Linked DNA regions of Homo sapiens. The protein of the gene in region 1 interacts with the protein of each later gene in a pairwise test. Each region holds a gene or a part of one and is shown on either strand. Other genes may lie near its edges.

The links.
Region 2: the proteins of APOD (region 1) and FPR2 interact in binary tests that used the Homo sapiens proteins (3 or more experiments, as listed by UniProt).
Region 3: the proteins of APOD (region 1) and AQP9 interact in binary tests that used the Homo sapiens proteins (3 or more experiments, as listed by UniProt).

Annotation. Positions count from the first base shown.
Region 1 is NC_000003.12:195,570,188-195,573,940, forward strand, and holds part of APOD (apolipoprotein D precursor), read right to left. Parts: coding exon 3,663-3,753; intron 1,179-3,662; coding exon 1,090-1,178; intron 1-1,089. UniProt on the Homo sapiens protein: APOD occurs in the macromolecular complex with lecithin-cholesterol acyltransferase. It is probably involved in the transport and binding of bilin. Appears to be able to transport a variety of ligands in a number of different contexts.
Region 2 is NC_000019.10:51,758,852-51,762,604, reverse strand, and holds the start of FPR2 (N-formyl peptide receptor 2), read right to left. Parts: upstream 1,426-3,753; 5' UTR 1,375-1,425; intron 1-1,374. UniProt on the Homo sapiens protein: Low affinity receptor for N-formyl-methionyl peptides, which are powerful neutrophil chemotactic factors. Binding of FMLP to the receptor causes activation of neutrophils.
Region 3 is NC_000015.10:58,136,093-58,139,845, reverse strand, and holds the start of AQP9 (aquaporin-9), read right to left. Parts: upstream 1,466-3,753; 5' UTR 1,281-1,465; coding exon 1,170-1,280; intron 1-1,169. UniProt on the Homo sapiens protein: Aquaglyceroporins form homotetrameric transmembrane channels, with each monomer independently mediating glycerol and water transport across the plasma membrane along their osmotic gradient.

The DNA.
Region 1 (3,753 bases):
TGATCCCTATGGGAAAAATACTCAGTTGAGAGTTTGGAGACCTAGGTTTAGGTCCCAACTCTACTTCTAATGAGTTCAGTGATGGCCTGCGTCACTCAGCCCACCTGCACTTTAGCTCCCTTCTTGATAAAAATAACAAGAGAAACTGTGTATAAAGCCCTTTACAGTTTACAGAGCGTGTGTATCTGGTTTATTTTCACGACACTGGGCAGTTATTTCTGGCTTGTACATGTGAAGTTAGTTGTCCATATTCATAGTGTGAGAAGAACTGTTTTCTCCTCCCAGCATTCCTTTCTTGGTCTATAAAATTAGAACTTCCTCTCCTCCCCGCTCTAGGCACTTGACTGGTGTGGGGTGGAGGAGTGGCAGAGATGAGAAGTAGGAAGTGCAGGGAGTAACTTTTGTAGCTGATGACTTCAGTGTCTACCCTGCAGGTGGGAAAGGGGCTTTCAAGCACTCTTCGTGTTAGAAAGCCTCACAGTTCTGGGTTGAACTCTCTAGTGTATCTTCGTCGGAAATAAAACTAATATTTGGTGCTTTCTCTATTGCCTGTGTCCCTTCCTCAGTTAGCTCAGAACCCAGAGGCAAATGCCTGTCATTAGGTATCTCACAGGATCCCCAACAATGTGACTGGAAAGTGGCAGAAGCAGGATTCAAACTTGCCGTCACTCTTGTCATCTCTTGCTTCCTAGTTTCTGCGCCGTGCAGGTTGTTCTGCTAATATCTGCTAATGTTTCGGGCCCCAGTTTCCTTTGGGAAACAAGACTGGGTTGTGTCTTCTGCAGCCCACACCCGGTGTGCACCTACTTGTGTTTCACCTGTTGAAACGCTAGCTAGTTATAGTAAATTGCGGGGTCACGTGTCAGTATCCACACTGGGATGTGAGCTCCATAAGTACCAAGGCCAGCTCTGTCCGGCTCATCATGGCAACCCTAGTGCGTGACATGTAGTAAGTGTTTGACAGATAATTATGTGCTGAGTGATTATAGATGACACTCAGGTGTCTCAGGAATTCTCCAAGCCGGGGCGCTAGCCTTCAGTTTGCATATTTCCTGTCCCTGAATCCTCCTGGGAAAAGTGGATACTTACACCAGGAAAACTTAACTTCCAGCTTGGCAGGCTCTGTGAGGTTAACTGGGGTGGCTTCACCTTCGATTTGATTCACAGTTCCATCAGCTCTGCAGTGAGTTAAAAAAAGAAAAAATACAAAAAACGAAAAGAGAAAAGAAAAACAACTCATTGAAAGCCAATAAGCAACGAAAGGCAAGATTTGTGCCACTAAGGACCGTGGCAGCCAACACCGTGATTTCTGGTAAGAGAGGCTCTCAAAGGCAGGCTAGACCCTAGCTCCATGGCCTGGCCTTTCCCTTGTGACTGTCTCTGAGGCCAAGCAGGGGAAGAGAGCAGCGGGGTGATAAGAAGCCGCAATTGACAAGCTCCAGGATGGGACAGTATGTTAGGCCCTTGCACTTCAACACTATCTCTGACTATCTTCTATGGCCTGAAAGACCAATTCCTGCTCCCAGTCTCCAAAGAAAGGGAGAAAAGAGAATGGAAAAACAAACAAAACAACCCAACACACAAAGAAGATTCACTTTTTTTTTTTTTTGGAGATGGAGTCTTGCTCTGTCCCCCAGGCTGGAGTGCAGTGGTGCGATCTCGGCTTACTGCAACCTCTGCCTCCCCGGTTCAAGCAATTCTCCTCCCTCAGCCTCCCCAGGAGCTGAGATTACAGGCATGCACCACCACGCCTGGCTAATTTTTTGTATCTTTAGTAGAGACGGGGTTTCACCATGTTAGCCAGGCTGGTCTCAAACTCCTGACCTCAGGCAATCTACCTGCCTCAGCCTCCCAAAGTGCTGGGATTACAGGCGTGAGCCGCCGTGCCTGGCAGATTCACTTCTTTTTAAAACGAGAAGGGCCAAAGGTACAGATGAGGATGGACTTGATCACTGAAAATAATTCAAAACAAGGAGACATAAAAGCGTTCCCCTTCTTTGGGCCTCAGTGATATCATGTGACATCGCCTGTCCCATCAAGGGGCCTGAGTCCAGAGACTCCCTCTAGTTCAGCAAGCCTCTGAGTGAGTGTGGGGGATTTCAATGTAGGCCAAGTAAAAGGAGGCAGTGAAGAAACATTTACTTTATCTCAGTGATTCTCAGGTATGCCCAGATTTCAGAGACATTAAATGTGAAGAAATGCATATCTCACAATTGATGTCACCTGACAATTAGCAGTGTCATTCCTTTCTTAGTGGCATATAACGCAGTGGTGTGTCTTAAAAGCTGGGGGCTTAGATTGGATGCAATACTTTCACCTCTTTGAATGAGCCTGCTTTCTAGATGACTCCCAATGGCCCCATGAACTTGGGAGAAGGGGAAAGGTGTGGAGATGGAGGCACCAAAGGGAGGGTGCTAAGGCATCAGGGTGCTCTTCCTAGGAAGCCAACAGAGGAGAGGATGTCTGTTTATCAATCCTCAAGGCAGAGCAGGGAGGCCAACTGAAATTAGAGCAGTCGTATGTGTTAGAAAGTCAGTAGGTTGGCCGGGCGTGGTGGCTCACGCCTGTAATCCCAGCACTTTGGGAGGCCAAGGGGGGGCGGATCACAAGGTCAGGAGATCAAGACCAGCCTGGCCAACACAGTGAAACCCCGTCTCTACTAAAATACAATTAAAAAAAAAAAAGAAAGTCAGTAGGTTAATGCTATGGTTAGTGGTGACGGATGTCCTAGAAACAGGACAATGAGCAACAGGCCAGGGATTCTGGGAACTGTGCTCTGATGTTCCCAAGTACTTTCTCTGTTTATCACCATGTAAAGCTGGAGACCGTGCCCTCCTCTCTCATCTGGATCTCAGACAGCTGGGGAAGATGGTCTGTTTCTATCTGCATACGTTAACTTAGCAACAAACCAGTCTCCTCCCAGCAGATTCTGCCCTTTTCACCGTCAATTGCATTTTGCTCTAGAACGGTTTTCAGGACACCAGTCTCTGACCATGAAGTCACAACATGTTCATGGAAAAACTGCATTTGTATTTTCAAGAGTGGAAGGTGGGTAGGAAGGAGCTCTTCCTGGGGCTCTTTTTAAGTTTATAGTTGCTTTCCAAAGCGTAGCTTTTTGGATTAATTATTGTGTTAGAAGCCCTCAGTAATAGAAATGTACACTTCTAAAGGATATCCTGTTTACATAACCTAGAGTGTGAATGTTGTGTATGTGATTCTTGCTTAATAAGAAAAGGAGCTTTCTGATAGATTAAGCTGCCCAGAGATGGGATGAACTGTCCTGGAAGGCGATGAGCTCCCAGTTCCTGGAAGTGTTTGAACAAAGCTGGATGCTTCTGTCAGCAGATGGTGTCGAAGCGGCTTCTCTCCCAGACTGGAGGTCAGAAGAGATGGTCTTGATGTTCTTTGCTACCAGAGTATCTATTTTGCAGTGAGTGCAGGAACCCTGTCAGTTTGTGCCCCGCAGGTGGTCATGGAAATGCATAAGTGGATCCTAGTCCTTGCCATCCTTGCCTGCCAAACGCTTTCCTCTCAATTCCTGCTAGGAGCAGGCAGTCCCGATCCAGCAAGGTTCCCATCCTCCCTGACCCAGGCTGCCGGACACCCAGTCACTCTGCATCAGCACTCCGCAGGCCTGGCCCCGGACGCCCACAGCCACTCACCTCAACTCCTGGTTTAACACTTTGATCTTTCCGTTTTCCATTAGTGAGTAGTTGGCCTGGATGCAGCGTCCATTCTCAAAGGTTGTTGGGA
Region 2 (3,753 bases), on another chromosome or scaffold:
ACCTGGCCAACATGAAGAAACCCCATCTCTACTAAAAATACAAAATTAGCTGGGCGTGGTGGCACGTGCCTGTAATTCCAGATGCTCGGGAGGCTGACGCAGGAGAATCGCTTGAACCAGGGAGGCGGAGGTTGCAGTGAGCTGAGATCGTGCCATTGCACTCCAGCCTGGGCAACAAGAGCAAAACTCTGTCTCAAAAAAAAAAAAAAAGTCCAATAAGGGCCGGGAGTGGCTCATGCCTGTAATCCCAGCACTTTGGGAGGCTGAGGTGGGTGGATCACCTGAGGTCAGGAGTTCAAGACCAACCTGCCCAACATGATGAAACCCCGTCTCTACTAAAAAAACACAAAAATTAGCTGGGCGTGATGGCGGGTGCCTGTAATCCCAGCTACTTGGGAGGCTGAGGCAGGAGAATCGCTTGACCCTGAGAGGCAGAGTTTGCAGTGAGCCGAGACTGCGCCACTGCACTTCAGCCTGGGCGACAGAGCAAGATTCTGTCTCAAAAAAAAAAAAAAAAAAGGTCCAATAAAATGGTGATGCTATTTTCAACACCTTCTAATGGCTTCCAAACTTCTAACTTATCCTTATCTTAAGTTCCCTCAAGTACCCCTGGACCTGCCCTGTGCATTCCTCAGACCTCATCTCTGCACTCTCGTGGGACACACTGGGCTCCACCCATAACGGGCTCTGATTCCTTGAACATGCAGCTCATTGTCATCTCGGGGCTTCTGCCTTCTCTGTTCCTTCTGCCTACCATGCTCTTCCTCTTAAGCTCCTCACACTTGGCTCCTTCACATGTTTATTTATCTTTGAGTTAGAGTTTCACTCTTCTTGCCCAGGCTGGAGTGCAATGGCACGATATCGGCTCACTGCAACCTCGGCCTCCTAGGTTCAAGCGATTCTCCTGCCTCAGCCTCCTGAGTAGCTGGGATTACAGGCTCCCACCACTACGCCTGGCTAGTTTGTTGTTTGCATTTTTAGTAGAGACAGGGTAATGCAAGCCCTAAATGCCAGCCACACACGTGACTTACAACTTTCTAGTAGCCATGTTAAAAAAGTAAAATCATTGGGAGAAATTAATTATAATAATATGTTTCATTTAACCCCGCAAATAAAAAAAATCATTGGAACACGTTACCAAAATGAAAGTTATTAACGAGATAAATTGTATTATTTTGATCATACTAATGATTAAACTACACTAAGTATATTTTACACTTAAGCACATTTCAGATCAAGATAGAAACATAGGCACTCAAAAGCCACCTGTGGCAAGTGGATGCTCCATTACAGCACTGCTCTAGAATTTAGGAGGTGTTTGTCAGAGAGCAGGAGTTCCATTGATAAATTTTAAATTGTCAGTCCCCAACTTACCAGCAGCTAAGCTCCTTTTCCTGTGTGCTTCTTGGCTTCCTGTGGAGCAACACCGGCTCTAAGGGCTTTCGCGGAGACTACTGAATGATGGGGGAGGGACAATGGAGCTGGAGCCAATCCCCTAACAGAAACTCAGGATTTCTTATAATTTTCAGAAGACACCTTGGGTATGTTGTCAGCGGACTCTTCTTAGAAACCAATGTGTCTGAATGTTCCTTCACCTCTAGCCTTCTGTGAGAGACTGGAGTTCATGCTTCCAAATGTCAAGGGTCAAGGAATCTGAATGTCCAGCCCTTCCTTCTTCAGAGTTTCATGAAAATGAAAGAAACAATTACTGAAGTGGGAAGAGTTTCAGCCACGCAATCAAGCCCAAATATGATGATTAAGTCAAACTCAATTCTCGACTTATGCAGTACTTCTGGCATCAAATGTGTGGGTCTTTTCCATATCAAGCAATTCTCCAGTTCTCTGGGGACACCACTGGGTATCTCACAATTCAATTCAGCTCCGACGCTGTCTACCTGGAGTTAGTGTCAGATCCCACAAGTTAAAGGGCTCACTCTCCCAAAACTGTCCTCACTTCAGACACCAATCCAAGTCCCAGGTGGCCACCTGTACTTCTGACTGACTGGCTATAAATCGGGGGTGGGGGGATGTTTATAACCCCTTCCTCTGTTCTGATAATTTGTTAGAATGGCTCACAGAACTTAAGAAGGCACATTACTGGCTGGGCGCTGTGGCTCACACCTGTAATCCTAGCACTTTGGGAGGCCGAGGTGGGTGGATCACTTGAGGTCAGGAGTTGAAAACCATCCTAGCCAACATCATGAAACCCCACCTCTACTAAAAATACAAAAAAAATTAGCTGGGCGTGGTGGTGGGCACCTGTAATCCCAACTACTTGGTAGGCTGAGGCGGCAGAATCGCTTGAACCTGGGAGGCGGAGGTTACAGTGAGCCGAGATTGTGCCACTAAACTCCAGCCTGGGCAACAGAGCGAGACTCCATCTAAAAAAAAAAAGAAAAGAAAAGAAAAGAAGAAGGCACATTACCTACATTTACTCGTTTGTTCTCAATGGAGTTCACATATCGAGAAATAAAAGGTGGTAGGTATTGTATAGGTGCAGGTCTCTAAAGAGGTGCTTCCTTGCTGGCTGCTGGAGACATAGAGATCAATCAGACATGGGCTCTGCGGACCACCTGAATAGAGAGGTGAGAATGCAGTGCTTAGTTACAATAGGGTGGGGGCACGTAGTGATAGACAGATGCCTGGCTCCTTGTGAGGTCCTCTAAAAGGAACCACTAACTCAGATTCACGGATCTAGAGTCAATATCCGGAGGAGGGAACATGTAGGCTGAGTCTTAAAGACTCAGATAAAGGAGAAAAAATAATGCATTCTTGTCAGAGGGGAGTAAAAATACCCACGAAAGGGGTCACAAAAAAGCAGGTTACTTTTGTTTACCAGAGCATAGATGATAAGGCAGACAGCAATAAGCATTAAGTATGTAGAGGGCGGCAGAGGCAATTTCTTGGTTGGTCTTGAATGCTGTAAAAAGAACTTAGAATTTCTTCTTAAAATTTCTTTCTTATATATATATATATTTTTATTATTATACTTTAAGTTTTAGGGTACATGTGCACAATGTGCAGGTTAGTTACATATGTATACATGTGCCATGCTGGTGTGCTGCACCCATTAACTCGTCATTTAGCATTAGGTATATCTCCCAATGCTATCCCTCCCCCCTCCCCCCACCCCACAACAGTCCCCAGAGTGTGATGTTCCCCTTCCTGTGTCCATGTTTCCTCATTGTTCAATTCCCATCTATGAGTGAGAACATGCGGTGTTTGGTTTTTTGTCCTTGTGATAGTTTACTGAGAATGATGATTTCCAATTTCATCCATGTCCCTACAAAGGACATGAACTCATCATTTTTTATGGCTGCATAGTATTCCATGGTGTATATGTGCCACATTTTCTTAATCCAGTCTATCATTGTTGGACATTTGGGTTGGTTCCAAGTCTTTGCTATTGTGAATAGTGCTGCAATAAACATACGTGTGCATGTGTCTTTACAGCAGCATGATTTATAGTCCTTTGGGTATATACCCAGTAATGGGATGGCTGGGTCAAATGGTATTTCTAGTTCTAGATCCCTGAGGAATCACCACACTGACTTCCACAATGGTTGAACTAGTTTACAGTCCCACCAACAGTGTAAAAGTGTTCCTATTTCTCCCCTTTCCAGCACCTGTTTTTTCCTGACTTTTTAATGATTGCCATTCTAACTGGTGTGAGATGGTATCTCATTGTGGTTTTGATTTGCATTTCTCTGATGGCCAGTGATGATGAGCATTTTTTCATGTGTCTTTTGGCTG
Region 3 (3,753 bases), on another chromosome or scaffold:
GAAGATGAGGAGTGCAAGAAATTGTCCGTAACTCCCTGAAAATACTGTAACGAATCTGGTCTAATGTGTTTCTCAGAGACCAGAAAACTTATGACTCTCTCTTCACATTCCACTAGTTCAATTTTTTGAGTTCACATTTGTTTCTCATTCTTGGCTTAGCTGATGCATTCCAAGCTTATTCTTCTAAATTATTATGTATTTGCCCCAAGCAAAGAACTTTTAATGCACAGAGTTTATGGGCTATTCTCTATAACTTTAAGGAAAATGAAATTATTTATACCTGGAGTAGGAAATCCTTAAGCAGGATAAAAAAAACCAGTTGAAATCAATAGTTGCCACATGATAATACATTTCTATTCACAAATGGCCTGGTTCCAGGTAAAACTTCAGGATACAGAGAATGCTAGAACGTGCAGCAAAATGAAAGCCCAGACCACTTAAGTAAACTTTCCAGTCTCTTGTTAATAGCTGAGTAAATCTCTGGGCAATCCTCAAGAGGTTCTTAGAAGTCGTCCCTCGTTTATATCTAGAAGGTTCTTGTAATTGTCTTGTAAATCTCCAAAGATATTTAGAGATTACTTTGCTTTAAATAGAGACCAAAAATGACACAAAACTAAAGCTGGACTATTGCCTGGTACACTATTTCTACCTAGTGCAATTTTTAATTTCTTAAAAATCAAGTGATCTGACAGCACAATACTTGTCAAGTACTTGTCATACTGAGATGTTTCTTGCCATCCATATGTATATTTTTGCCAACTATATTTATTGACTATTGATGCTTATTCCAGGTGGCTGAGTCACCCCAATGCTTGGAGGAAGCAAGCAGGGTACAAATCAATTGATCAATGAAAACACTAACGACTGACTTTTAAATCACAAAGCCATTTTAGAGTATAAGTAAATACCTGAAATAAAGAAGGCACTTCACTCACTCCTTCTCTTCCATTCCCATCAACTTTTGTGGGTAAATGCAATAGGTAATTGAAAACTTAATATCACAACCCCTAAATAGTCAAACAGCCTCTAGTAACTTGTTTCTTCCTGGAAAAGATGAATCTGATCCCAATTAACTTAAATAAAACAAACCAAACAAAACTCTCCACTACCAGCCTGGCAGCTAGGGAGGCATTATTGGGTCTGAATGTAGGAAATCAGGAAATACTTACAATCAAGATGAACGTGCCCAAGAACTCAGAGAGGGTTTCTTTCGCTAAGCTGCTCTTCAAGACCAGTCTCTGCTTGAAGCTTTTTCCCTTTTCTGCTCCCTCAGGCTGCATCTTGGGGCTTCTCTGAGGACTCCTGTTTCTACCAATACCTACCTGTTGTGGTCCTCACTTTCACAGCCAGATGAAAATGGACGTTTTGACAATGGCTCACAGATTCCTGGAGATGTCTGGTAAGAGTCTCTGACTGTACAAATGCCGTTCCAATTAGAGGCTGTGGCTTAATCGTCTTCTGGTGGAACTGTCATTCCCTGTTCGCTGCTATTTGTTTGAATCTGCGACTTAGAACCCGAAATCCCCAAAACAATCCCTTTTGTGCCTGACAGATTAATCATTACCTTTATTCTCAAGGTACTTTTTTCTCTGTTGGTTTTTTTCAAGAGATGAGAAAAGAGATGTGCCAGTTGTGTTGCCAAATCACAGTGACGGGCCCTGGTCCAGAAAAGATTTTCATGTTACACAATTGCAGGCTTCTGATTTTTTTTTCTTCTCATTCAGAAGTGGGTGGTTGGGGTGTAGTTTGGAACTGTCAAATCAGGTGTAGATATATCCAATGTTAACATTCTTTTCTGAAAAAGGTTTTTATGCAAAATGAAGAATTTGAAGAAAATATAGATTTATCATCCTAGAAGATTAATCACTCTTGTTTTCTTCTGGTATCATTTCAGTGGCTTCATGATACCACTCTGAGGTTAGTAAGAACCACATAGGCCATCCTAGAGATGGAGAAATTAACATACAGAGAAACCATTGCAAGCTTCACACTGCAAGTCTGTAGGACAGATGGAGTCACCTCTTCGGTTATGAAACTGGGCTTCACTTGCTGAAGATACTTTAGGATCCAAGAATCAGAAAGATGGAGGAGTCACCTTTTTGGTGACTTCTGAAGTTTCTTCTGAAGAAACATTCCAGTTTGGGTTTCTTCTGAAGAAGCATTCCAGTTTGAAAATAGTCACTCTTCTTCATTCACCATGAAATATTTAGACATAATACATAGGAAATAAACAATAGCAGCTTGAAATTCTTTACTGCATGGAGATGACTGAGCCGGAAAGAGATCAATTAGCGTGTATGTCATTCTAATCAAACGAGAAAGGGAGCCAGTACACCTAACCGAGGCTCCTAGGTTATACCCTTTCAATTTGATAAATTGACATCCTTGCTGGCAAGAAACTGTGTTTGGGAGTAGCTCCTTGTCCTGCCAAATATTCAAGCCTTGTTTTTCAAAACTGGCTTATCTGAAGAAATAGAATATAGCATTAGTTTCTAAATAGCAAGGCAGGCCTAGTTTCTGATTACCAATGTGGACTCATGGAATTAGTATCCATGCTGTGTGGTTCCTTCCAGTCCTCCCACAGGGAAGCCAGCTCTGCATCAGGCCCTCCCCTAGCTTTGCAAAAAGGGAGGGAGGAGAGGACATGGAGAAAGCAGCTGGTGAGAGGCCAAAGGCAGAAGGAGACTTCTCATCTGTAGGTGACATTTAGAATTTAGACTTTAAAAAGTTATAACCTGCCTGAGGCCACACTACTGCAGAACCAGGACAAAACCTCAGCACTTTGGCTTTAATTCCTGATGAAGTTATCATAAATACCATTGTCTAGAAGAGTTACCTATGACCACACCATTACCAAGTCCCAGTGGATGGACCAGAGAAACAGGACTTTCTTACTGTGACTACAGCTAATAACATGCAAGAGCGTTCTCTGGTCTTCCCATTCACTCATCTAACAACTATTTACTGCACACTCATTATGTGCCAAGCACTGCACTTAACAAGAGCACATAGGGTTCTTGTCCTTCACAGAGCCTAGAGTCTAGTGAAGCAGACAGATGTAAGTGAAATAATCCCACACACATAAATACAAAATCACAACTGAGATGTATGCTGCAAAGATGGGGGCCATATTTCCATAAGCAAATATAGCAAAAGGATTTGACTTTGTTGGAGAGATCTCTGATGGCTTCTCCAAGGAAGTCATGTGTGGACTGAGATCAGAAAGAAGCATGGGATTAACTACATGAAGTGGGGAAGAAAGTGCATGTACAAAGTCCTTGGTGGCTTTGGGGGTAAGGGGTAGGGGACAGCATGATGCCTCTCAAAGAATGAGAGAAATTTACTGTGGTTGGCCCCAGAGAGAGTGAAGGAGTACAGCATGCAAAATGAGCCCTGAGGTGTGGGCAAGGGTCAGACCTTACTAGGCCTTGTAAGTGGTAGTTAGGGCTAAAAGTGTAAGTCATTAAGGTGGTTTAAGCAGAAATACGACATGATCAGATTAGAGTTTTGAAAAGATCCTCCGAGCTGTGAGGTGGAGAGGGGATTGGAGGGGGCTTGGAATGGTCATAGGCAGATACATTTGGGGGTATTACAGAATTCCAGAATTGGGTGGTAGTTTGACAGTGGAGAAATGGAGGGATCCAAGAGTTCTTTATATCTTAAAATTGGAAGAATTTCATGGATTAGATGTGGGAGATGAGGAAAAGAGACTGAGAAAAGTTGGTTCCTGAGTTCCTAACTTGCTGGGGAAGG